5 separate regions of the Homo sapiens genome follow, and all the other regions are linked to region 4. Evidence: fine-mapped expression QTL. A gene starts in region 4. Each other region holds a variant in brackets. All regions are shown on one strand. Distances are from middle to middle.

Evidence for each region. PIP is the estimated chance that this variant, and not a neighbour inherited with it, causes the effect.
Region 1: its variant is fine-mapped to the expression of CPVL in nucleus accumbens (GTEx, PIP 0.99).
Region 2: its variant is fine-mapped to the expression of CPVL in hypothalamus (GTEx, PIP above 0.99).
Region 3: its variant is fine-mapped to the expression of CPVL in thyroid (GTEx, PIP above 0.99).
Region 5: its variant is fine-mapped to the expression of CPVL in whole blood (INTERVAL, PIP 0.96).

What each region holds. Positions count from the first base shown.
Region 1 is chr7:29,175,850-29,180,956 of GRCh38, reverse strand. It overlaps a transcript of CPVL not described here and a transcript of CHN2 not described here. Among named protein-coding and RNA genes, the nearest start is that of CHN2, 16 kb to the left of the region's middle. The variant C/A (reference allele first, on the strand shown) is at 2,414.
Region 2 is chr7:29,306,432-29,311,538 of GRCh38, reverse strand. All of the region lies in intron 1 of CHN2 (chimerin 2), which reads right to left. Among named protein-coding and RNA genes, the nearest start is that of CHN2-AS1, 100 kb to the right of the region's middle. RefSeq lists an enhancer at 1,139-1,707. The variant C/A (reference allele first, on the strand shown) is at 2,277.
Region 3 is chr7:29,060,963-29,066,069 of GRCh38, reverse strand. CPVL (carboxypeptidase vitellogenic like) reads left to right here. Exons shown (of 13, transcript NM_031311.5): 10 at 1-47; 11 at 1,836-2,009. Among named protein-coding and RNA genes, the nearest start is that of CPVL-AS1, 17 kb to the left of the region's middle. The variant G/A (reference allele first, on the strand shown) is at 2,257.
Region 4 is chr7:29,143,325-29,148,429 of GRCh38, reverse strand. It overlaps CPVL (carboxypeptidase vitellogenic like), which reads left to right and starts at 1,893. Exons shown (of 13, transcript NM_031311.5): 1 at 1,893-2,001. It also overlaps a transcript of CHN2 not described here.
Region 5 is chr7:29,112,631-29,117,737 of GRCh38, reverse strand. It overlaps CPVL (carboxypeptidase vitellogenic like), which reads left to right. Exons shown (of 13, transcript NM_031311.5): 3 at 4,916-5,034. Among named protein-coding and RNA genes, the nearest start is that of CPVL, 31 kb to the left of the region's middle. The variant G/C (reference allele first, on the strand shown) is at 3,122.

The DNA.
Region 1 (5,107 bases), 33 kb before region 4:
ACTGGGTACCAGTGATTGGTACCAAGAGTTGTTTATGTATGATCTTACGTACTCTTTTCAATTACACTGCAAGCAGTCATGCTTATTATCTCCATATTACAAATTAGAACTCCAAGAGGTATACGGATGATACGAGTCTTGTCCAACATCACACAGAATGTGACAGGGCCTGGATTTGAACCCAGCTCTAACTCCAGAGCCTGAGCTCTTAATCACTGGACTCTAGTGCCCCTTAATTAGTGTGTTAGTGTTCTTCTTATTAGTTTGTAATAACTCTTTACATAGTAATTATAATAACTTTTAATTGGTCAAATTTGTGCCAAAGGTATTTTTATTGGCTCATCATTTGCCTTAATTTGATTTATACAGATTTAAGTCATTTTTATATCAATTTAGATGACTTTTTTTTTTTTGAGATGGAGTCTTGCTCTGTTGCTCTGTCGCTCTGTCGCTCTGTCGCCCAGTGCAGTGGCGCGATCTCGGCTCACTGCAACCTCCGCCTCCTAGGTTCAAGTGATTCTCCTGCCTCAGCCTCCTGAGTAGCTGGGACTACAGGCATGTGCCACCACGCCTGGCTAATTTTTTGTATTTTTAGTAGAGATAGGGTTTCACCGTGTTAGTCAGGACGGTCTCAATCTGTCCTGACCTTGTGATCTGCCCGCCTCAGCTTCCCAAAGTGCTGGGATTACAGGCGTGAGCCACCACACCCGGCCTAGATGTCACTATTGGTACGTTATCACATTTTAAAAATATTCTAAATTTGATTCACAATATTATTAAAATGTTTGATGTGAAATATTTTCCTTTCTAATAAAAAAACTATTGGGGAACAGATTGACTTCGGAATATTAAGAATGAAACACATGTAAGCATAATATGTGAATATTTGGAAATGAAATAACCTACATCATTGATGAAAGGACATCTTATTTCTCATTGATATTTCCACTGTCTGCAGGGAAATATAATCATTTGAAAATACAAGACAAATAGCAAAAGATCAATAGAATGCTTAGCAATGTAAGTTATCTTAATGCTTTCAAAATAACAGTGACCAGATTTTTTGTTTGTAATACTTAAGTTGATTTGCTTGCAATAATAAATAAATCCTCACATGCACTAACTCAGTTTTGCAAAGCATAAGAAAACAAATGAACCTCATAAATGCTATATAGCCCCTCCACAAATGTCCAGTTCTTACCCGTGTTTTGCATTGATATAAAATAGAATAGCTATTAAGTATTTTGTAATTTGAGAAATAAAAAACCTGGTAATTATTGATGGTTTCTCTACTTAGAAAAAGGAGAATATTTATTTACATATATCAGAGTAATTCTATTTGGCAAAGGATATATAGCAAAATAATCATTTGTGTTACTAACATCTGCCTTGTTCTTGCTTATGAAGAAGACTTAGGACAAGTATCAGAATCTTTCCTTCTCACTCCTGAAGAATTTGTGTTGAGTCTGGGTTCCTGGATTTTCTAGCATCTGAGAGTGGTCAAAAAATTCTCAGACTGCAAAACTTCAGCCTGAGTTTCTGTGCAGAGCATTCTGGAGTCTTTTCTTCAACAAGGCTGACTGAAGAAGGCTGACACTGTGTGGGAAGGAAGGCAGAACTGATCTAGCAAAGAGTGAAGGGAGCACTCTTCCTCATGACTTGGCGTGGGATGGGGTGGTTCTTAAGGATGGCATCCCATGCCCACTCTCATGCAGTGCTGTGTGAGGGGATGGAGCCTTCTGAAGGGTTCTCCCAAGATGGCAGCATGGCCTAACACAAATAAGCCTTATGCCCAAGCTTGGCAAAAAGAAAATGGAGGGGCTGTTTTCAAAGGGTCCATGAGGACTGTAAGTGTGTCAGCATGATATTGGAGGATCACCTCCTGTTTTCTGACACCAAGAGAGATGCTGGGTCCCCTATAATCCTAAGGAGGCAGGAGACCTCAAAACCATAACTGAGGAGGTGCAAATGCTGGTTAGCTCTGGTAGGTGGGGTCCTGCCTGGACTATAATGTCCCTTAAATGGTGTGTTAGTGTTCTTTTTATTAGTTTGTAATAACTCTTTACATAGTAGTTAACCTTTGATTGGTCAAATTTGTGGCAAACCCATTTTTATTGGCTGATTATTTGCCTTAATTTGATATATCATAGGGATTTAAGTCATTTTTCATATGAATGCAGATGGCTAATTCCACTCCAAGTTGTGAAATTAATTAATTAATGCCAAACAGTCATTCAACAAACAATAACTGAGCCCCTACTATGATCCAGGCATAGGTATAGACCCTGAGAATATAACAATAAACAAAGTCCCTGCCCTTAAGAGGCACAGACAATGAACTGCTTTTTTTAAAAAGATAACTTCAAATGCTGAAAAATGTGTTCAGATGAACATAAAACAGCATGTCAGGCAA[C/A]GTCTCTCGGAGGATGTGACATTTCAGCAGAGACTTGATCTTGCAGGTCTGGAGGAGGGAACAGCAGATTTAAAGGGCTGAGTCAGACACGAGCTGGGCATGTTAGAGGAACAGGAAAGGCGGCCAGTGGAGCTGGCGTCAAAGGAATGAAACCGCACGCAGAGGAAGACCAGGTCAGAGGCTGAGTAGATGTCAGATCCTAGCAGCCACGTGGGTCATAGTGGAGACTTTCTGTTTATTTCTAGACACAATGGGAAGCCACAGAAGCTTTTAGGAAGGGGATAACATGTTCTGATTCATACTGAAAAGATCACTTTGGCAGCTATGGAAAAGGATAGTAAGAAGAGCAGGGTGCACGGTGGCTATGTGACTATTCCAGTGGTTTCAAAGAAAGGCTGATGGTGTGGACAGAGGATAGTAGCAGTGGAGATGGCAAGACACCATCAGACTTAGGGTAGAATCTGACAACACTTGCTGATGATGGAATGTGAGGCATGAGATAAACAATCATCAAGGTGACTCCTAGGTTTTTAGCTGAGCAGTTAAATGGCTGGTGGTGCCACTTGCTGTGATGGTGAGGGCTTGGGGAGGGGGAACTTTGTGTGGGGATGGAACCGAGGGTTGTGTTTCGGACATGTGAAGTTTGAGGCACCTATGAAATGTCTAAGGAGATGTCAAGTAGCAAGGTTTGGAGAGAGGTCTGGGTTGGAAAAAAAGATTTTGGTTATAAAGTGAATGAATGAAAGAACAGATAGATAGGTGGGAGCATAATGAGATGGGTAGGTGTTTAGAAGTAAAGAGGGTTGGGGTATAGCTGGTAAAGTGGATGGATGGATGGATGACTGCACAGATGGATGGATGGACAGATAGATAAATAGGTAGATATTAATAGATGGACAGATAGATAAACAGATGGAAGAAGGAAAAGAGAGAGAGAAAAAATGAGGGGACAGAGGAAAAGCCAGTAAATTAAAAAAAAAAAAGTGAGGGGGCCAGGCACGGTGGGTCATGCCTGTAATCCCAGCACTGTGGGAGGCCAAGGCAGGCAGATGACTTGAGGTCAGGAGTTTGAGACCAGGCTGGCCAACATGGTGAAACCCCATCTCTACTAAAAATACAAAAATTAGCCCAGCATTGTGGTGTGCACCTGTAATCCCAGCTACTCAGGAGATTGCGGCAGGAGAATTGCTTGAACCCGGGAGGCAGAGGTTGCAGTGAGCAGAGATAGCACCACTGCACTCCAGCCTGGATGACAGAGTGAGACTCTGTCTCAAAACAAAACAAAACAAAACAAAACAAAACAAAATAAAACAAAAAAAGAAAGAAAAAAGAAAAAGATCTCCTATATAGGTATAAATTACTTTAAGCAATCTGAAGATTAGAAAGGAATAAGTTTCCCAGTGAGTAAATTTTTTAGTGTCTCTGTGCTAGAAGACAATGTTCACTAAACTAAAAATATTTTATCTTAAGGAGATAACTATTTTATATTTGCCTCTTCCATCTATATTTTTTCCCCTCTCTTTCTTGCTTTCTTTTGTATTAAATGATTTTTTTTCATTCCCATTTTCTCTGTATTTATTTGGAAGTTATAAACACTGTTTCTATTCATTTAGAAGTTAACCTAGGCATTTTAACATATAAGCTAACGAAGCCTAATGTTTATCCATATTCTTACCATTCTGACCAATGATGAAAGAGCAAGAGGTTGCTTTCCCTTTCCTTCCTGGCTTCCTATTTATATGCTCTTCCTTCTAGTATTTCAGCTCAATCTCGTTTTTTAAACACCAGAAGTTAGCCATTATTTGTTGTTTTATACTGTCAACGTTAATTTAGGTTTAAACAGAAGTTTCCCATTTTCTTGGCTCAAAATTCTTTCTTGTATATTAGATCTTCCTTCTGTATTCTTTTTTCTTCCTAAAAAATACCCTTTTAAAGCTTCTTTGTAAGGGTGTCTTAGTAGTAATCCCTTTCAATTTTTGTCTATAAATGTCTTTACTTTGTCTTTCCTTTGGAATCAAAGTTAGATTTGTATAGGATTCAAGCTGACAGTTAATTTCCTTCAGCAATTTGAAGAGACATACTGCTAATGAAGACATACCCATTGTGTTCTGACATGTTTTCCTGCCAATAAGAAGTCCACTATTAATCTAGTTATTATTTCTTTTTGGCATTTTTTTTTCTTTTTCCTCTCTGTTTGGGGGAATCTGAAGCTTTCCTACAGTGTATCTAAATGTGACTTTATTTTTATTTATCCTGCTCAGGACCTATTGGCCTTCTTGACTTCTCTTCTGGATCTTTGTAGTCAGAATAAATAAATAGTCATGGTCTTTTTTTTCTTTTATCTGTTTTTTTTTTCTTGAGACGGAGTCTTGCTCTGTCGCCTAGGCTGGAGTGCAGTGGCGCGATCTTGGCTCACTGTAAGCTCCGCCTCCCAGGTTCACACCATTCTCCTGCCTCAGCCTCCCGAGTAGCTGGGACTACAGGCGCCCACCACCACGCCTGGCTAATTTTTTGTATTTTTAGTAGAGACGGGGTTTCACCGTGTTAGTCAGGATGGTCTTGATCTCCTGACCTTGTGATCTTCCCGCCTCGGCCTCCCAAAGTGCTGGGATTACAGGCATGAGCCACCGCGCCCGTCTGGTCTTTTTTTCAATTATGGAAAATAGTCATGATCTCTTTGAATATTGCCTAATC
Region 2 (5,107 bases), 160 kb before region 4:
AGTTGCTTAGCCTCTTTGTGCCTCAGTTTTCTCATCCGTGAAGTGGGGCTATGATCCTCACAGGGATACAGCCAGGATACGGGAGAAATATAAAGTACCTGGCACAAAGTAAGTGTCAGGAAGCGCAGTAGAGATTAAAAGGTTCTGTGAGAGGATTCAGAACAAAGAGTGAGGCATAAAGAAGGATCAGTTCTGGAGACAAAAGTGGGGACTGCCAGGAAAGACTCCAAGAGAACACGTGGCCCTTGAACCTCTTAAGATGGATCACATTTGCCAGGTTGTCGGTGACAGGAAGGACAATGGAACGGTGTAAGTGAAAGCCAGGAGGCAGGGAGTCCCATCAACAGGTGACAAAGGCAGGGGCAGGGAGAATATGATGGAGGGACTGGATACAAGAGATGCTAACAAGGCTGAATCTACAATGAATCTACAAGGCTCGGAGACTTATTAAGTGTGCAGTAGGAAGGGAAAACATCTGTACTGAGGACAGACAGAAAAGCAGGTTATGGGGCTTTTTAAATTGCACATTAATGACTTGTTTTGTTGTTTAAGAATTCTTTCAATAGTTTTCTTTTTAATAAACAAGTAATTATTTGGAGAATTTAGTCAATGTCATAAACTGAATGCTTGCATCCCCCTAAAATTCTTATGTTGAAATCCTAACCTCCAATGTGATGGTGTCAGAAGGAGGGGCTTTTGGGAGATGATTAGGTCATGAGGGTGGAGCCCCCAGAAATGGGATTAGTGCCATCTAGAAGAGACTCTGGAGAACCACCTTCCTCCTCCCACCATGTGAGGACACAGTGAGGACACAGGCCCTGTTTATGAATCAGGAAATGGGTTTTCACCAGACACCAAACCTGTAAGAAACAAATTTCTGTTGTTTATAAGCCACCCACTCTGTGATGTTTTTGTTATAGCAGCCCAAATGAACTAAGACAGTCATCTAATTTTTAAAATACCATTTTAGAATTTTATATCACCTTTCAAAACAAATATGTATTAAATACAGAAAATTTGGGAACTACCGTTGGGCACTAAGAATAAAACAACAATCACTCATAATCCCATTTACTGAACTAAGCATCCCGTTTCAATCTTTATATTTTCCATTGTTTATATTTGTATACATTTTAATTGCAAATACAGGATCATATGGTACCCACTGTTTTGCAGCTTGATTTTTAAAAATTAAACATGAATGTGATTATATTCATTCAATATTCTTCTACATGTTCAATTTTAATGGCTTCAAGTATTCCACTCTATGGATGTATCATAATTTATTTTTATCTCCTCCCTTATGTGAATGTATAAGTTGTTTCCAGTTTTTTTTCTATTACTGAACATTCCTGTTGATACATCTTTGTCCACATACTTGATTTTAGTGTTCATTTTAATGTATTTTATCCGTGTAACCATGTTGAAGTAAGGGAAAGTAAGTTAAATGTAGTTTATTGTACTCTTCACAAGAATTAATCCAGCCACAGCTTCTTGGTCCCCCCACCTAGGAAATGCCATGTGCCTGCCCCATGAGAGACAGAACAAGGTGGGAGAGGCCCATTTGAGGCAGGGAGTCCTGCCTGGCCAGTGCTTCCAGGGTACAGGCACTTGGGCCCCTTCAGCAGCATTCCCCAGACCCTAGACAACCTGGATCCATGTAACAGCCACAGCAGGGCCCATGAGCCCGCGAGGTCTCCACCCTCACCTGCAGGAGATGAGGCAGCAACCAGCCTGCGTGGCAAAGTGGCCCAGCACCTCCCTTGGAGCCCTACTCAGAAAATGGGAGGAGAAGCACATTTGGTGGCAAGGCCAGAACCTATTCCCATCAGCTCCTTGATCTTCGTGAATCAACAGAAGAAAACACAAACTCCCGAAGTTACGCAACTGGATTTGATTATGCATCATTTATTTCCTTGGGTTAGGCATTCCACTTCTCAGACTGCCACATGCCACTAGCTCATGCTAAGCCAGAAAGGACAATGACAATGGGAAAGAAAAGGAGAAGCAAAATTAGAAAACTCCTTCATCTGAGGTGGCATGCTCCCACCACCGGGGGCCACTGTGAATATATTAATAGGAACAGGTGGTAGGAGGAGAGGAGCCAAATGCTTTGTCCTCTATGAGTGGAGAAGGGAAGGGTGGGGGAAGAGTTAGGATGGTATCTGAAAGGGTCTACACTTTCTCAGAAATACAAGAGCAGAATTAATCAACCCAAATAAGGAGAGCACTGCTACTCTCAGGCTGCTCATCTGGAAGACTGGACTCAAATTCTA[C/A]AACCCAAAGAGCGGTGACTTTCCAAACACTTTTTGAACCGTAGGCCAAAGTCCTTTATTTCTAAAAACAAAAACAAAAACAAAAAAAAAGCTTTTGGCTGCTTCTTGAAATTTATTCTTGTAAAAGACTATGACCTATTTATTCTGTCCTTGCTATAATAGTGGATACCCTCTAGACAAGGTCTATGCTTTCCATTCATTCACTTGTTGGGTCATTCATTCATCATCCATTCATCACATACTAATAAACTATTCTTGGTGGGTAATCTACTCTGTGCAAGATGTTGCATTGCCAGGTTTGTGCACATAGTAGTGAGCAAAACAGACATGTTCCTATCCTCACACCCTTCTGGTCTTGGAGAGGAACACAATTAACAAAGAAGCCAAAAAATTATTGAGTATAAAGTGCAATGGAGGAACTAAATAAGGTGTTTTCATAGAGGCTAATGAGACAGATCTGCTTAGCACGGTTATAAGAGGCATCTCTGAGGAAGGGCAGAACAGGGCTATTATCCACCCAACTACTGAATTTTCCTCCTGGGCACACAGGAAGACTACATGCCCAGCCCTTCACATCCAGGTGAGGCCATATGGAATGTGGCCCAGGTGATGTTCATTCCAGGCCCAGCCCACACAATCCTCCACGCATTCCTTGCTCCTCAGCAGGTGACTGCAGAGATCCTGCTAAGGATTCCGAGAAGGCACCGGGGGAAAGAGAGGTCACAAGCTGGAATGGTTGGTGGCTGTGTGGAACAAAGCAGAATCCCAATTCCTATCCCAACACACACACACACACACACCCCAACCACCTTGCACTGTGACGTGAGGGACACGTGCTTTATTGTTTTAAACCACTAGGATATTGGGTTGTAAGTGATAGCACTTAGACTCTTCTGACTAACAGAGGAGGAAGGGTTAAGCTAAGGCCTAAAAGATGGGAAGAAGCCGGTTCTTGGAAGATCTGGAATAAGGGTATTCAAGGCAGAGGAAACAGCATGAGCCAAGGGCCCACGGCAGGAAGTCTGAGGAATGGAAAGACAGCTGGAGGAGTGGGAGCTGAGAGAGTGCAGCGTAACATAAGGTAAGGCTGGAAAGACAGGAAGGAGAGAAAAAGCAGGAGCTTGTAGACAACAATTAGAGTTTGGATTTATTCTACATTCTCCATACTTTTCCAACTCCTTTGACACAGTTATTTGTATGCCGAGATACCCAGTAGACACTATTAGCTGATTTATTTAAAATGACCAAAAATCCAGAAAGATGCAGTGCTAAATGCATTAGTTTTCTACTGCTGCTTTAATAGATTAGCACAAACTCAGTGGCTTAAAAAAACAAGAATTTAATATCTTGAATTATGGAAGTCAAAAATTCAAAATAGGTCTCATTAGGCTCAAATCAAGGTGTTTTCTGGGCTGGGTTCTTTCTGAGCAACATCACCTGGGCCACATTCCACATGGCCCCAATTGGATGTGAAGGGCTGGGCATGCAGACTTCCTGTGTGCCCAGGAGGCAAATTCAACAGCTGGGTGGAGACGCTAAGGAAGAATCTATTTTGTCCACCTTCCTTGACTCCTGGTCCCTTCCTCTCTTTTTCAAAACCCAGCAGCAGAGCATCCTTCAATGACTCTCTGACTCTCACACTCTACTTTGCCTTAAATGGGCTCTTGTGATTACACTTGGCCCACTCGGATAATCCAGGGTAATTTGCCCATCTCAATCAAGGTCACCTGGTTAGCAATCTTACTTCATCTGAAATCTTAATTCCCACTTGACATGTAACAACATATTCACAGGGTCCAGACATTAGAACAGAGACATGTTTGCAGGGACCATTATTCGGTTCACCACAGTAGGAATACCATTACTTGTAAATTGATGTTGACTAATCATACTCACCAACCTTGTAACTCATAGACTCCTTTTATTCTTTCCCTTCAAACTGGATGATTTGAAAGATCTGATCTCCAAAACAAACTGAACTTATTATGTAGTTACTGATAGATAATTATTCCATTAGCTTTTTTATTAGGCTTTTAAAAATGTATAAAAGAGGCTGCAGACCCCTCAAAACATCTGAAGTGATTGTAAGTTGGGAACCATTAGATTTACAGACAACTGAGCTTCTCAAATCTCAGTTCCCTTGGTCTGGTTAAATGATTTAGCTGAAGGCGAATCAGCGAACACTGATAGGATATATCCAGGCACATCTCTTTCCTGCTGTCCCCAAAATGAGAGATTACGGATGTCCTCTTGAAAATGTCACCATAAGAAAATCATACTCTTAAGAGGAAGGAGGCTTGGACGTTACTAGTCACATCTTTAACGCTGAGAGCTAATTATTCCACATGCTTCACACCACTGGATGGAAACACTCATTATTGTGTTAGAGGACAGGAATCTGGCAATTCTGCAGAATGCAAATCACCCAAAGCCATTCCACTCAAGCTGGCCTGATTAAGTTTGCTGTCAGCCCTCAAGGATGCTAACAAAGCTACTGGGACAGGAGGGAGTTCACGGCAATTCTTACATACTGATTACACTGGATTAAGTGATTTGCTACATTTAAATAATAAACAATACACTTGAAAAATCACCTTGAACACAAGATTCCCTGGACATTTGTTCCTGGGGATGAATGTGTCACAGGGCAAGGATATAACAGTTCATTCAGCATGTGCTCTATCGCCTTGGGCTTTAACACCCAGGGTCCCCCTTTCCTGCCACAGCCCCTCCTCTCAGTTTATACTCATCTTCTGACCAATCAGCACTCTCTTAAGTGACACCTCACAAAGGAATTTTGCCTTCCCATCACATCTCTTCTACATTTGCTG
Region 3 (5,107 bases), 82 kb after region 4:
AGAATGTTACAGGATGTAGTAATTACTATAACTTTTTGCGGTGCACGGTAATGACATTTTAAAAACCATAATAATGTTTGCTTAAAACTTTTGGCAAAACCGAACTTCCTTTGATTTGGGAAATATTATAGATGACTTTATACTAGACCAACATGTCCAAACTGTACCGCGTGATGTGGTCTACTAACCCATAGAATCTTTTCCTCATCAGTGTTGTATACGTTATAATCTGACCACTGAGAATGTGTGATATTTCAGATAACTCAAAACAACTTCTGATGAACATGATTTCCCCCAAGTAGAGCTTGTTATAGAGGCACTTTTGTGAAGGACACAGGCTGGGATTGGAGTTCTGGGTCTCAGGTCCCAGAGCTTCAAGTCTGTTTACGAGTCTCTTGAAAATGCCCACATTCTTTGTTCTGTACTTAAGACGCTTGGATAATCAAAACTGCCAAAGCCTTAATGAAAATATTTGCTTTGTCTTACTTTTAAGATGTTTAATGCATTTAGTATGGCCCTCACTTCAAGCCTTCTGGAATATTTCTCAAAGTATTCAAGTAGTTTGTTTCATAAAAGTAGGCCAAAGTTGATATCTTTTGTGTAGAATTAGTCAAACAGAAGGAGCCAAAGTAGGTGTTTGAATTTGTATAATCTTTGTCTAATGCTTATGACAATGCATTCTGTTTTTAAAATTGCCTGATTTATGAACTAGTTTGTAAATAAAGTATAACGTTAGTTTCAGTGGAATTCGCCAATGCTGCAGTTTTGGATTTAGATTCTACTAAGAGAAAAACATGTGGTAGACAAGACAGAAACAAAATTTGTGATGATACCTTTTTTTCTTTACAACAATATATTCACAGTTAGTAAAAATTGTTGATGAAGCACAAAGTTGTCAAACTCAAACTTTAACAGTTTTTTTAATCCTTGTGTAACTGTTTTTTTTTTAAAGCATTTACTCCTTTCTTTCAGTATAATGATTATTACAGAGACTTTATTGCAGTTTTTTTTTTAATAAGCTTCATGGACAACTTTTCTTCTGTCTTGTGTCCTTCATAAAGTATCATCTCTTTTCACATTTGACATATTTTCCCCTTTATTATAGTCAATCCAATTTTGTGTGTGTGTGCGGTTTTTTTTATTTTTTAATTTTATTATTATTATACTTTAAGTTTTAGGGTACATGTGCACAACGTGCAGGTTTGTTACATATGTATACACATGGACACAGGATGGGGAACATCACACACCGGGGACTGTTGTGGGGTGGGGGTAGGGGGGAGGGATAGCATTAGGAGATATACCTGATGCTAAATGACGAGTTAATAAGTGCAGCACACCAACATGGCACATGTATACATGTGTGTGGTTTTAATAAACAGCAGAACACAGAAAAGAAATTCTTAGCTTTAAATCCAGCACACCACCAACCTGGCCCTTGTGATCCATTTGACCTTCTTTCCAAAGAGCCACCAACAAGGAGTGAATTGATTTTGATAATCTCATCTCTTTTGTTTTCTCTCTCTTTGCCTCTAGTGGGGTTGCTAATGGGAGTCACAGATTGCAAAAGATTAGTTTCTGCAAAGGAAAATCCTGTATTTGCAAATTGGGTATTTTAAGAGTATTTTAAGGGTATTTCAGATTTCTAATTAGTAAAAAGATTCCACCTAAATTATCTCAAAACCTCCGAGTTAAAATTTCAAGAATGGCGACAAGTTAATAGTCCCGTCACGTTTCTCCATGTTGTATGTTATGAGAAATTCACAGCTTTTCCCAACATACTGTTCCTGCCACCAATCATGTTCCCTATGTCTTTCCAATGCCCCTTCTGCCAGGAACCTGAGGATCAGCTTTACTATGTGAAATTTTTGTCACTCCCAGAGGTGAGACAAGCCATCCACGTGGGGAATCAGACTTTTAATGATGGAACTATAGTTGAAAAGTACTTGCGAGAAGATACAGTACAGTCAGTTAAGCCATGGTTAACTGAAATCATGAATAATTATAAGGTAAGAGAGCTACTTCAGTTACTATTTTAGGAACTTTCAGATTACCCAGAGCAGAAGTGATTTGTAATTTGAGTCCTGCCTTTTTTTTTTTTTTAACTTTTATGATGTGTCATTAGCATAAATAACAGCCCCTTTCTTTGTTTGATTCCAATTCAAAGTTTTATATTGTTCCTTTTAATTTAACCACTTTTGCCGTTGTGGTGACTTATACCTGTAATCCCAGTGCTTTGGGAGCCTGAGGCGGGTG[G/A]ATCACCTGAGGTCAAGATTTTGAGACCAGCCTGGCCAACATGGTGAAACCTTCTCTCTACTAAAAAATACAAAAACTAGCTGGACATGGTGGCGGGTGCCTGTAATCCCAGCTACTTGGGAGGTTGAGGCGTGAGAATCACTTGAACCCGGGAGGCAGAGGTTGCAGTGAGCCAAGATCGCAACATTGCACTCCAGCCTGGGCAACAGAGCAAAAACTCTGTCTCAAAAAAATAAAAATAAAATAAAATAATTTAACCACTTTCCCCTGATTATTCCTTAAAATGAAATTCCCTTTGGCACACACCACTTCTCATCCTTTCTTGAGAAAGGAAGAGTTGCAGAGCCAAAAAGATGACTGGCCGTGTGTAAGAGCCAGATTTCTCTTATGTGTTGCTTTGTTACATGAATCCCAATGACGTCAGGGATAAATGAAATCAACTGGTTATTCTGAAAATGCATTTTGCCTAATGGTTGTATTCATTCACTTTACCCAATCACAGTGTTTTGAGTCTCTCCTTAGGGTGTGAGGTTGAAATGATGAATGAGAAAGGGTCCCTGTTTGGAAGTAGGTCAAGTCAAGCCATTGTGCTGTCTGGTTGAAATGCTCTGCCTTTGCTGCCAGTGGAGGTGCCAGTGGAGAGTGAGGTCACAGAAAAGGAGCCCTGGAGGTTCAGGCAAAGAAGACATGGGCCCTGGAACTCCCACTGGGAAGGAGGACACCAAGAGCAAATGACATGGGGAAAGTCAGCCTGTGTATTATTTCTTTCCTGGTACTACGCTCTCAGCTCCTCCTCTGGTCCTCCAGTGCTGTTAGCCTTTGCCCAAGGGATCGTCTCTAGGGCAACTCCGAAGGATGCCTGTACTGATGACTGGGGAGACCACCACTGAGTGATCCACTTCCTCCCTATATCCTGTTTTGAATGAACAAAAAACAGGGCAGTCGGCAGCCCATAGGATTTTTGTATGAATTAGAATAAAGGCATCCTCTCCTCAAGATACTTTATTTCGATCTTTCAGAAATTGTCCTGATATACTGCCTTAGTTAAAACCAGACTCTTTACTGCCATTTGCTGGCATGCTGAATATTCATTTCTACAATGTGTATATTAGGAATGGTGTGTCTTAGGATTGTTCAGTGCACAATCTGCAATACTATCCAGGCAGTCCCTGGCCAATGCACCCTAACTAGACTGTGGTTTAGAATATGCCAGACCTAGGAGGCCCATTTCTGGGTCCTGCTTCTAGTACAGTGTTGGACACGTAACCATTGTTGAAAATAGTTTAAGACCAATTATATGCCAAGTCTACAAACCCATTATAAACCTGCAAAACTTGATGAAATACTTACTTTCTTGGAAAGAAAGAGTCTAACTAGGTCAGGCCAGCATTTCAGCCATCCTTGTGTTTGGTTTTCTTGGGGACATGTAGTGGCCCTTAGTGCTTGCTGCTTCAAGACTTCTCAGAGGACCTCCAGAAGGCACTGCTGTTTGTCCTCTCCTCTGAGCTCTCAGAACGCGTTGTCTTTACCCCCATAGGTGTACATGGCACACTCTAACGTGCAGACTCTCAGTCTGACACCCATACCACCACCAGCCTGGAGCAGATGTCAGGAATGAATGAATGATTAGTGCTGTATCAAAAATATATCTATAAACCTGTCCATAATCCATTAGGTGCTTATTATCCACAAATTTATTAAACCAAAAAGAGGTTAGCGTTCATGTCTTAAAGATGATGTTCTGTAATGTGATGTTAAGGAATGGAACGAGTGAATTTTTTTGAGAGGAGAGCAGATAAGTTTGATATGTGTTATTTGTGCCCTTGGGAGATATATTTTCTCACTGTACACACTTTTTTTTTTTTTTTTTGAGATAGAGTTTTGCTCTTGTTGCCCAGCTGTAGTGCAATGGTGCGACTGGCTCACTGCAACCTCCACCTCCTGGGTTCAAGCAATTCTCCTGCCTCAGCCTCTCAAGTAGCTGGGATTATAGGCATGTGCCACCATGCCCAGCTAATTTTGTATTTTTAATAGAGATGAGTTTTCTCCGTGTTGGTCAGATTGGTCTCAAACTTCTGACCTCAGGTGATCCGCCCACCTCGGCCTCCCAAAGTGCTAGGATTGCAGGCATGAACCACCGCACCTGGCCTCACTGTACAAATTTAACTAGAATATGATTCCTTTCTCAGCCATGTGAGGGTAAGGTGGGACAAACAGCTTACCTGATGACATAAACTCTCCTTATGTTTTGACTGATAAAGGAGAATATATTGATTAGAGGTGATCCTGCATTTTGATATTTAAACTTCTCTGTCCCTCTTGCCCATGTATCCTAAACTTACCACTATGAATTCCAATAAAATCAAAATCCAGTATTTTCTAAACTTTTCTTTTCTTTTTTGAGACAGAGTTTCACTCTGTTGCTCAGGCTGGAATGCAGTGGCACGATCTCGGCTCACTGCAACCTCCACATCCCGGGTTCAAGTGATTCTCCTGCCTCAGCCTCCTGAGTAGCTGAGATTACAGGCACATGCCACCATGCCTGGCTAATTTTTTTTCCGTATTTTTAGTAGAGACAGGGTTTCACCATGTTGCCCAGGCTGATTTCAAACTCCTGACCTCAGGTGATCCACCCGCCTCGGCCTCCCAAAGTGCTGGGATTACAGGTGTGAGCCACCGTGTCTGGCATAAACTTTTCAACTCTGAATCGGTTGCCAGAAAAAGAAAAGAGTTTAGTGGTATAGATAAACCATATTTCCATAAAGAAACAGAACAAAATATGCCACCAAAAAGTGGCTGCTGCTAAAACAGACAGCATGTTCACTCACGCAGCTGGCAAAGCGCTTGGGAT
Region 4 (5,105 bases):
AATGGTGTTCTTATAAGTTGCAGCATTTATAGCCTTGAGGTTACTAAAACTGCAGGAAGACTTTTGGGACACCCTGTTTTTGAATAAATATGCTTACAGCATGGCTCCTCCTGTGTTTACTGTAAAATTCAGTTTAGTTTTTAAGTGGTTCCACGTGGGCACAGGTATTCTTTGGCCAGTAGTTGTCCTTATACTTAGACCCAAGGAGCCCTTGTCCAGGGCCCACACTTTAGAAGGCAAATTCCAAATTCCCTCCCCAAATGGCACTGAGCCTGCTTCAAGGGTCTGCACGCCAGCAGCAGTGTTATCTGCTAATGTCTGTACTCCCATGGGCGAACATTGCTGACTCTGGTGTTCATACTCTTGTGCCCAAGAGGTGGCTGGGGGACAGCTGCTTCTGGGAAGCTTGACCGAGCTTCCACCAATGGACTAGAGCCCTGTGGGAAGAGAGGAGGTGGCTGCAAACCAGGAACTGGAAATCGCCTCTCCCTGCACCATCATATTTAAGTGCAGATCATCCAAAGTTTCAATCTGGCCTTTCATGTCAATTCCCAAGGTATATTTGTCTAGGTAGGAAGGTAGAACTTATTGTACTTAATCATTTGTTAACTTTGTTTATAACTTTTAAATATTTAGGTATCTGGCCTACAGATCTCTGTTTGTACTTTTGCCCTGGGTCCTGCATATATTAAAGGTGGGCTGATTTTGGCCTTAAAAGAATTATTTTCCCACAAACAGATTTTTCTCCTTAAAGAGCTAGGTGGGTAGGAAGTACTTCCATATGGAAGGTATGATAGCAAAGAATGACTGCAGTCACTGAGCACATACTTTGTGCTGGGTGATTTACACATAGTTTTTCAGTGAGTCCTCACAACAACCCAATAAAGTAGGTACTTAGGAGAAAACAGATATTCAGTGACATTAGTTTGTTCCAGCTCGTAAAACTAGTGCTTTAGTTAGCCTTAGTTGCATAACAAACTACGCGAAACTGAAAGTGGCTTAAAACAATTTTTCCCCCTGACTGTCGGGTTGGCTGGGCTGCTCTACTGCGGGTTTCCCTGGGCTCACTCCTGCAGCTAGCTGTGAGGAGATGGAGGTTGGCCCGGGACAGTGCAGAAGATTCCCCGTGGCCTCTCCCACCTGTCTGGCAGTTGACGCTGCTGTTGCTGATAATGATGACCCTCCTTTATTTTGTGTTATCTACTTGCCATTGCAACCTCCTTGCCTTTTTTAGTTCTTGCTCCCGTACTGTCTGGCTCGATGCCCAGCACCTGGTGGTGGCTAATAATATACACTCAGGTCACTTACAAGCAATGTGACCCTGGATGGGTTACTTAACCTCACTTAGTTTGTGTCCCCCAATTGCAAAATGGGTATAATGGTACAGAACACATCAGGTGGCTCTGAGACTCCAGCGCAGTGATTCAGGAGAGTGCTTGGCAGGACAGTGGCACTTGGTGCGAGCTTACTGCTAGTGCAGCTGGAATGTAGACCATCAGCGAACGTGTGTTGCCTTTTTAAACAGTGGGAATCAAACACCACTCGCTTTCCAAATGTAAATCCTGGGCTTGCAAGTAAGTCCTAGAGTGCAGAAATAATTTCAAAATACAGGGTTGAAATTTTAAGATAGCAGCTTTTAAAAACTGGGAGACAAAATCAAAATAAAACAAAGGGACAAACCAACCTGAATGGCACCCCGCCGATGCTCTTCATTAATTTTTAAGATTCCACCCTGGGGCTGCTTGCTTCTTCCAGCATGGGAAGCGCTGACTTGATGCGGCCAGGTTTCTGGGACCAGGAGGTTGGGACACGACGACGCACTTTTTGCCCTGTGGGTCTGGGTCATGTGAGCCTAGAGGAGCGCTTAAAGGCTCGAGTTCTGCAGGGTCCTCGTGACTGGGTGGGGCTGCCTCACTTCTGCCTGATTTGGGAAGCGCTGCAAGGACAACCGGCTGGGGTCCTTGCGCGCCGCGGCTCAGGGAGGAGCACCGACTGCGCCGCGTAAGTGCCGCCTGCCCTGCGTGGGTCGTGCCAGCTCAGCGGGACAGGTCCTCGCCTCGGTCCCTCGGACTTAGGGAGCGCGGGGCAGGTAGTCTCAAAAGCCCTCAGCACCAACAGGGGAGAAAGCACCGTAGAGTGAGACTGGAGTGGGGTGGTCGTGGCCGAGTCAAAGTTCAAATTGGAGCATTGGGGATGTACTGCGTGCGCCCAGCCGAGGGAATACTCTTGAAGTTTCCTGGCACAACTGTCGCACCCGGGGTTCTTCCAGGCTAGAAGCCGTCTCCTACTCCAGGAGCTCCTCCGGGGAAGTACGAAGCTGTGGGGTCCTCTGCCGCTCTTAGCGCGGGAGGGTGGCGGGTGCAGGACACTTTCCCTTACTCCCTCAACGCGTGTTTTGGGGATGTGTTGATTTCGTGGGTGCTCAGAAGCAAGAGAAGCGGAAAATACCTTCTATTTTGAACGTGCCCAAAGCAGGGAAACTTGGCTTCTGCCTAGGAACGCATAGGAAGACTTTTATTCTTGGAATGTAGGATTAGCAGAAACCAAGGGCACAGGAGACAGGTGGAAGCAGCTCCCTGTGAAGTGATACAGAAACAAAAGGACTTTGGAATATTTGTGGATTTAAATCCCAGTTCTGGCCTTGGCTAGTGAGTGACCTCGGGCAAATTATTTAAGCCTACTAAACCTCAGTCTTTCCATCTGAAAGATGGAGATAATAAGTTTTTCTTTTTAAAGAATTGTTTTATTGGAAATAGAAATAACATACAGAAAATGCCTCCCTAGCACGGGACTTGGCTTTTCAGCTAAGTGTAATTTTCCTTATCAGTTATGATTGATGATGAAGTCTATGGTGAAGACAGAACAAAATAATGTTTAAAACTCTGGCCATATAATGACTGTGGCTATGCATGACCCGTGTGCAGTCACCTCTGAGCCCCCCACCTTCACTGCAACCCCAGTGGGTCCCAAGCAAGGTGCTTGGGTTTTGGAGCTGGACAATTCTGTGCAATTCCTGGTTCCGGTATCCACTACTTGGATGACATCAGGGACGTAACTTATCTTCCACAGCCTCAGTTTTGGCATCAGTAAATGAAAAAGGAGCCCCTCAGTACTTGCCTTTCCCTTCCCCGGCTAAATGTACAACTCATTTTTTTTCCATTCTTTGCTTTGGGATGAGTAAGAACAAAGATGTAAGCAGAGTAAAAAGTCCATTGAGAATACATTTTATTAGCTTGGTAAATAACGTTTAAGAAAGTTGTCCAAAAGGAGAATTGGAGCACTTTTGGAAAAGTACACTGCACCGGCTTTGTTGGCATATGAAAGTCTGCATGGTCGTCAAGACCGTTTGGCTAACTGGGCATTCTAGATGTGTACCTCATGCTAGTCTAAGTACAGGGGCAACCCTTTATAATGTAGTGTCAGTGTTCTTAACCAGATGTTGTTTTATTAATCTTTTATAGGAGATGATTGTTTGGGAGGGGCAATTGATCCCCCAATTTATATAAATCCAGTTTATAAATCACTTTATAGTGGGATTCTACTAGCCTGAGAAATAGGTGGGTTTTGACTGACAGTTTGAATGACTTAGAAGAGTGTTAAGAAAGTCCACTGGGTTTACCAGTTCACTCCCCACAAAAAATAAAAACAAGAAGCAAATAATATAACAGAATTCTAAAAATGAGTTTGTTTTTGTTTTGGGAAGCATCTAGTTTGTCAGAGGAAACACTGAGTGTTGAATACTACCCTGGGATGCACAGAACTAAGGCAATGAGAGGGGAGGAACTCAGTTCTTGCCCCAGGTATCATCAGATATCTGTTTATTAGCACCCAAATACTCAAGGTAAATAGTAATGACCCATTCTTTCTTTTTTTGAGACAAGAGTCTCACTTTGTCACCCAAGCTGGAGTGGCACCATCTCTGCTCACTGCAACCTCCATCTCCCGGGTTCAAGGGATTCTTGTGCCTCAGCCTCCTGAGTAGCTGGAATTACAGGTGTACACCACCATGCCCGGCTAATTTTTGTATCTTTGGTAGAGATGGGGTTTTGCCATGTTGCCCAGGCTGGTCTCGAACTCCTGACCTCAAGTGATCCTCCCACCTCGGCCTTCCAAAGTGCTGGGATTACAGGCATGAGCCACTGTGCCTGGCCAGTGACCCCTTCTTAATAGGAAGTATGGTTCACTAAAGAGCAAACATGATTGTTTTAGTTTACCATTTCCGATGGCTTTATAATGTGAGATTTTCATTGACTGAACTAAGAACATTTAAAAGAAGTAGGCAAGCTTCTCAGAATTAGAAAGATACCTCTAGAACAATGACTCATTAACGTCTATATTGACTTGTGAGAGAGGTAAGCTGGGCAAAAAGCTAAGAACTGTACTTTCCTGGTAAAAACAGTAGTGGAGTTTGAACTTTTATACTATATTTGCAAGCTCAAAGATGTAAGCCTTAATAGACAGTTCACAAGACAGCTGTTACAGCGTATCTGAACTGAAACCAGGGTATTGAGATTGCTCTCCCTTAAGAGATATTAGAGGTATAACCTTGAACATGAAATCACATGCTTTCATTGCTTTAACTCAGACCCTGGGGTGCAGGACAGGGTGGTGGTAGTGAAAGAGGGGGAAGGACTGTGTCCTTAGATCTTGGAGCCTGAAAAAGCAAATTCTTAGCAGCTTATCTTTCCAATATAGTTGGAACTTACCTCCTACCTTTTTCTCTCTAGTCTGATTCTAGTTATTGGTTGTCTTTAAATTGCTTAGAATTGTTTACAGGCCAAAATATTTACTTTGAACCCTAAAGGTAAGCTCTTCCTCCTTTCCTTTTTGGGACTCTGTATCCCATTACCCCTCTTTCAAAAAGATAGTGCCACATATCTTTTTGTACTGTATGATTCTTGGGAGAGAATGTAACCCAGGTCCCAAGCGATTCATTTTCTCATTTATTTATTCATTTAACTAATTTTTTCCCAGTGTTTGATTATGAAAAGGTTTAAACTTTCAGAAAAGTCAAAAGAATTTTGCAATCTAGAATCTACCTAGATTCTATTATTGATTAGAAGCCAGGGTATTGATTTCAATTGATTAATCAACTGGCATTGATT
Region 5 (5,107 bases), 31 kb after region 4:
AATCCATAAGCATTGTTCCCATTTTACAAATGAGAACACTGAGGCCCGGAGAAATCAAATATCTTGCCTAGGGCCATAAAACTAGTAAGTGGCAGAGCTTGAATTAAAACCTATACTGGCCAACCCCAGGGCCCATGGTATGAACCACTATGCTATATGAGCAGCTCTGAATTAAACCCTATACTGGCCAACCCCAGAGCCCATGATATGAACCACTATGCTGTATGACCAGCTCTGGACTTCAGAGTGTCGGGTAAGATTTACGTAAATAGCGAAAGGTCTGTGCGTACCAAATGAGAGAAACAGCTTAAACAAAGGCATTAAGTGAAAGTGACCATGGTGTTTCTGTATCATACATCTGGTGGAACCAAGTAAAAAGAATACAGAGAAATCCATCTGAGAGACTACTGACATCTCTCCTGTTCTTGTCTTTCTTGCCTATGAGCATTTCTCAGTTATGGGTATTAGCAGCAGCCAAGAAAGATTCCAAGGGAGGTAGTTTTATCTTCCACCCTCCCATGTCAAGATTGGTAGATCTTCATCTGATGATTGACAACATTTAAAATATTAAATCTGTGTATAATATCACTTCCTGAAGTTATGTTACACAGTCAAATTCTTTGAACAGAATTTTAAGTGGCTGATTCAAAATCTGGTACATCTGGGTATTCAAATGTAGCCCTGACAACATAATTAAGGATAATTTTATTCATCCGCTTTGCTGAAAGTTCAGGAAGCTCTGGACAGATGGTCAGCTCACTCCCCTAAATCCCTTTTGTTTATCGAGTCTGTCAAAACCCTAGGAACGTGAGTCTTATTATTGCAATGGAACATTTTCGAGATAAACAGTAGCTCGCAAAAAAACAAGGGAAATTTTTAATTTTTAAATCCTCATTTAGCTGGCTTAGTTTTATGTAATTGTAATTGCATGTTTACTTTCTCTGAAGCTAGAATAAATCTTTACTCCCTGAAACAAAATGAAGTAGGAGGCACATTTTAGCTTGTTTATAAACACTGCATTTTCACACTTTAAAGACTATTTTACTGGTAGGTCCTAATTTATTGTTACTTATGATCTGATAATGTCTGTCCACACTGGTGATAACTTGAGTGTTTGTGAATCTGGCATGCATGCTGATTAGCTGGTTCAAGCCCTTTGTTGGTCACATTCCAATGTTTTTGAAAGTGTTAATATCACAAACATTGGTTGCAGCAGTAAAAAACAAGGAGGAAGTAAAATCACTTCAAAGAAAACCTTTTCCTTTTTAAAACTGTTCTAAACATTTGTATTGTGAGTCATGGTGCTGGAAAGATAGAAACTCCTCCATCTTGGGAGTTTGTTTTCCACATTCCATTAATAGAAGGATGCACAGGACATTTGAAAATATAAAAAGTCATTTTAGTTGATGACATTTTAAATTATTTTACTGGGATTTAGTTAGTGGAAATTTAAAATTTGAAACAGGGCAAAACTTTTTTTATGGGCTAGAGAAAAGTTCTAAATTTCTTAAGATCTTTTAGCAAGGTCTGCCTTAGGAGGTTTTTGTAGAAATAAGCCAATCTTGGTGCCTTGTCAGTAGGGCTTGTTTTAGTTCATTCATTTATTGACTTGTTCATCCATTCATTTGTTAACATTCATTCATTAAAAAGTATTTATTGAATGTCTTAGGTGTGTAAGTCAGCATGCCGAGTCCCAAGGTATGCAAAGTTAAATAACACAAATTCCCCACTTTCCAACCTCCTGACCTAGGAGGGAAGGTCTGAAACATACTCAAGTAAAAGGTAGTAGAGAAGCTACTTTGGCATCCTCAGGAAGGGAGGGATGAGTGAACATCTGAATCATTTGAGAGCAGTCTGTGGACCCTGTGTGGTGCTGGTCTTGGGAGAGATAGATTGATTGAATCATCCTTTCCTCTGTTCCATTCCCTCCAGCTCCTTTCTATTATATATTTTCTCTTTTTCTCATTATACTTTGACCTTTCTCATTTTTGTGTTGTCTTTCTCAAATCCTCTTCTTCCCATTTACCTCTCTGTGGTCCACATCTCACTCATTTCCAATCCACAGTTTTTACTTCTCTACTCTCCTTTTTTTTTTTGGGAGGCAGGGGGTGGTATCTGTTTGATTTTGAGAAGATTAATAGTTTTGCTAAAAATATTTCAAAAGCATTTTAAAGGCTGCCCAGCCCTGGGGGGTGATCTTTCTCTGGGCTAATTAAGAGTGGAAGTGAAGAAAGGGAGAAGAAAAACGACAGATGGCGGGAAGAGTGGGAGGGGAGGAGTGGCAAAAACCACTTTCCCCAAACACCTCCCTTTTCTTTCTCATAAGATCCTCACCTCTCTCTCTTTTTCTCTGGCTTTTTTTCTGATGGAGGAGGGATAGACCTCATTGGGAACAGAATGTGAAGACCAACAGAGGTTGCATTAAGCAATCTTCCCTGGGAGAACCAGGCTGAGCCAGAAAAAGGAAATTCTTCTAGACTTCACTTGGAGTGGCCAAAGGCTAATGATAACTTTCCCTTCCAATTGACTGAACCCATATTTTATGTGCAGTGCTAGGCTAAGGGTTCATATGCATTTTTGTTGTTTGATCCTCACAGAAAGCCCAGGATAGCGGAATCAGTATTTATATTTTGCATAAAAGGAAAGAGGCTCAGAGAGATGGAGCAACTTGCTGGGGAGTCCTAATCTAGTTAGGATTCCAAACCCAGGTCTGTCAGGCTAGGAAACCCATGCTCTTCTATTGTGCTAGCCTAACAGGACCCTCAAGGACCACCTGTTGAGACCTTTCTTTTGTCCCCATGACCTCCTCTGCTCAGAGGTGCTCCCTGTTCCTAGTCAGCAGGTGCATTTCACAGACAGCAACAGTAGTTCTGCTCCCTACCTGCCAGCTTCTTTATATAGATTTTACATGTGGGGGCTCTTTTAATCCAGGTGGCCCACAGGCAGTACATCTTCCATAGAGGAGAAACTGAAGAACAGGGAGGTTAAATGCCTGTATGGTGGGTCACCAGCTGGTCTATAGGAGCACTAGGATCAGCAAAGGAACTGTGTGGTCTAGATGAGAGGTTTTCCTTTTGAGAGGCATGCCTATATATATGTTTTTTTTTTGAGACAGGGTCTC[G/C]CTGTGTTATCCAGGCTGGAGTGCAGTGGCATGATCATGGCTCACTGCAGCCTTGACCTCCTGGGCTCAAGTGATCCTCCCACCTCAGCCTCCCGAGTTGCTGGGACTACAAGCACTGCCACCATGCTCAGCTAAGAGGCATGCCACTACTTCCCTTCCCACTCCTTGCCACCTGCACCTTCTGACTCACTCTAGTTGAAAGCCCTGGGGGAAGGAACAAACTCTGCAGCCTGACTGCTGTGTTTAATCCCAGCTCTCCTCTACTAGCTGGCAAGTCACTTAACCTCTCTGTGCTTCAGCTTTCTTATCTGTAAAGTGGGAATGAGAACTATACTTCCCACATCATGTAAAGCCCTGGTATTCTGGCCTTGTAAAATAGGAACTAGTGGTCCCAAAACAGCAGTGTGCTGGTAAAAGTTTAGCAACCAGCCCTTGCAGTCAGGACCCTGACTTGTAGCATCTATTCCCTTGAGTGTTAATATTGTCACCTTGGCTTATTTTATCCTGTCAATGTCTCTGAATGCTGAGCTGGGAAAAGATGCTAACAATTAGCCTTCCAGAGCCTAAGGGCTCCACCTACCGTCAAAGGCATCTTTAGTCGATGGCATGTGAGGAGTCAAGCTTCCTGACCTACTAGCCAGTCTCCAACTTAATATGGCTCAGACTTACATCGCTTTTCTTGAGTGACTGGTTCCTACTGGGGACACATTCTTTGTCACCACTAAAGGATTCTTCTTCACCCAAACTTTCCCTTTTACTTCGCCACCACATTCTGCTGTTTTCTGTTCCTTTGCCACTCCCTTCCTGACCACTACTTCCCTTCCCACTCCTTGCCACCTGCACCTTCTGACTCACTCTAGTTGAAAGCCCTGGGGGAAGGAACAAACTCTGCAGCCTGACTGCTGTGTTTAATCCCAGCTCTCCTCTACTAGCTGGCAAGTCACTTAACCTCTCTGTGCTTCAGCTTTCTTATCTGTAAAGTGGGAATGAGAATTATACTTCCCACATCATGTAAAGCCCTGGTATTCTGGCCTTGTAAATGTCAGCTCCTAGTAGCATTCTTTACTCCTGGGCATCCTTGGCTGTCTAAGCATCCCCAATTACTCCTTCCCTGTGCCTGTCCCAATGGTGCCATAAGAACGCCAGGACCCCTGGCCCCCACAACTGCCCCATTGTCCTATTTGGCTCCCCCTGAGTAGCCATGAGGTCACTCCCAGTCTCCCCACTGTCCACCACTGTCCACCTTTCCCCAATGTCCACAGCCACCCACACTCCCATATGCCTCAGCCCACTCCTCTTAGTAGATGTGACAGGCTTTTTGCCTTCATGAAAACAAGAGCGTGAAGGACACAGGCCTTCTCGGGGCGAGGCCGAGAGCTGCTTCACCACATTGTTACTCTTGCACCCCACTGTTTCAGGTCAGGTTACTTTATCCTGCTCCTTTCCATGTGGCCCAAGGTGATCACCTTGGTTTATGCAAGGTGTAATGATAGGAGATTTTCTTTTCTTCTTTTTAAAAGAACTTAAAAAAAACCTTATTACAGCTTATAAAATATATTTGGGCACCCCTCCCCAAAGGCTTAAAACTTTCACATATCCTTGGCTAAATTGTGAACGTGGACTATGTGGGATTGGCCAGGGGCAGGCTGGAATTTGCTGAAGGAACTACCTGTCATACCAGTTCCCTTTTAGCTTATCTAATCACTCCATTTCATCCAGACTGAGATAGATGGCTCACATTTTTGTTGTTATTGTTTTCTGTAATCCTTGGGTAAATTTTTTTTCCCCCACTAGGAAGAGAATTGAGTTTGGTCGGCCCTTTCCCAGGACTGAACATGAAGAGTTATGCCGGCTTCCTCACCGTGAATAAGACTTACAACAGCAACCTCTTCTTCTGGTTCTTCCCAGCTCAGGTAGGTGCCCAACAGAAAGAACACCAGTGTTCAAGACCTGGCTTGCCGTTTGAGGGTAGAAATGTTAGCCTAC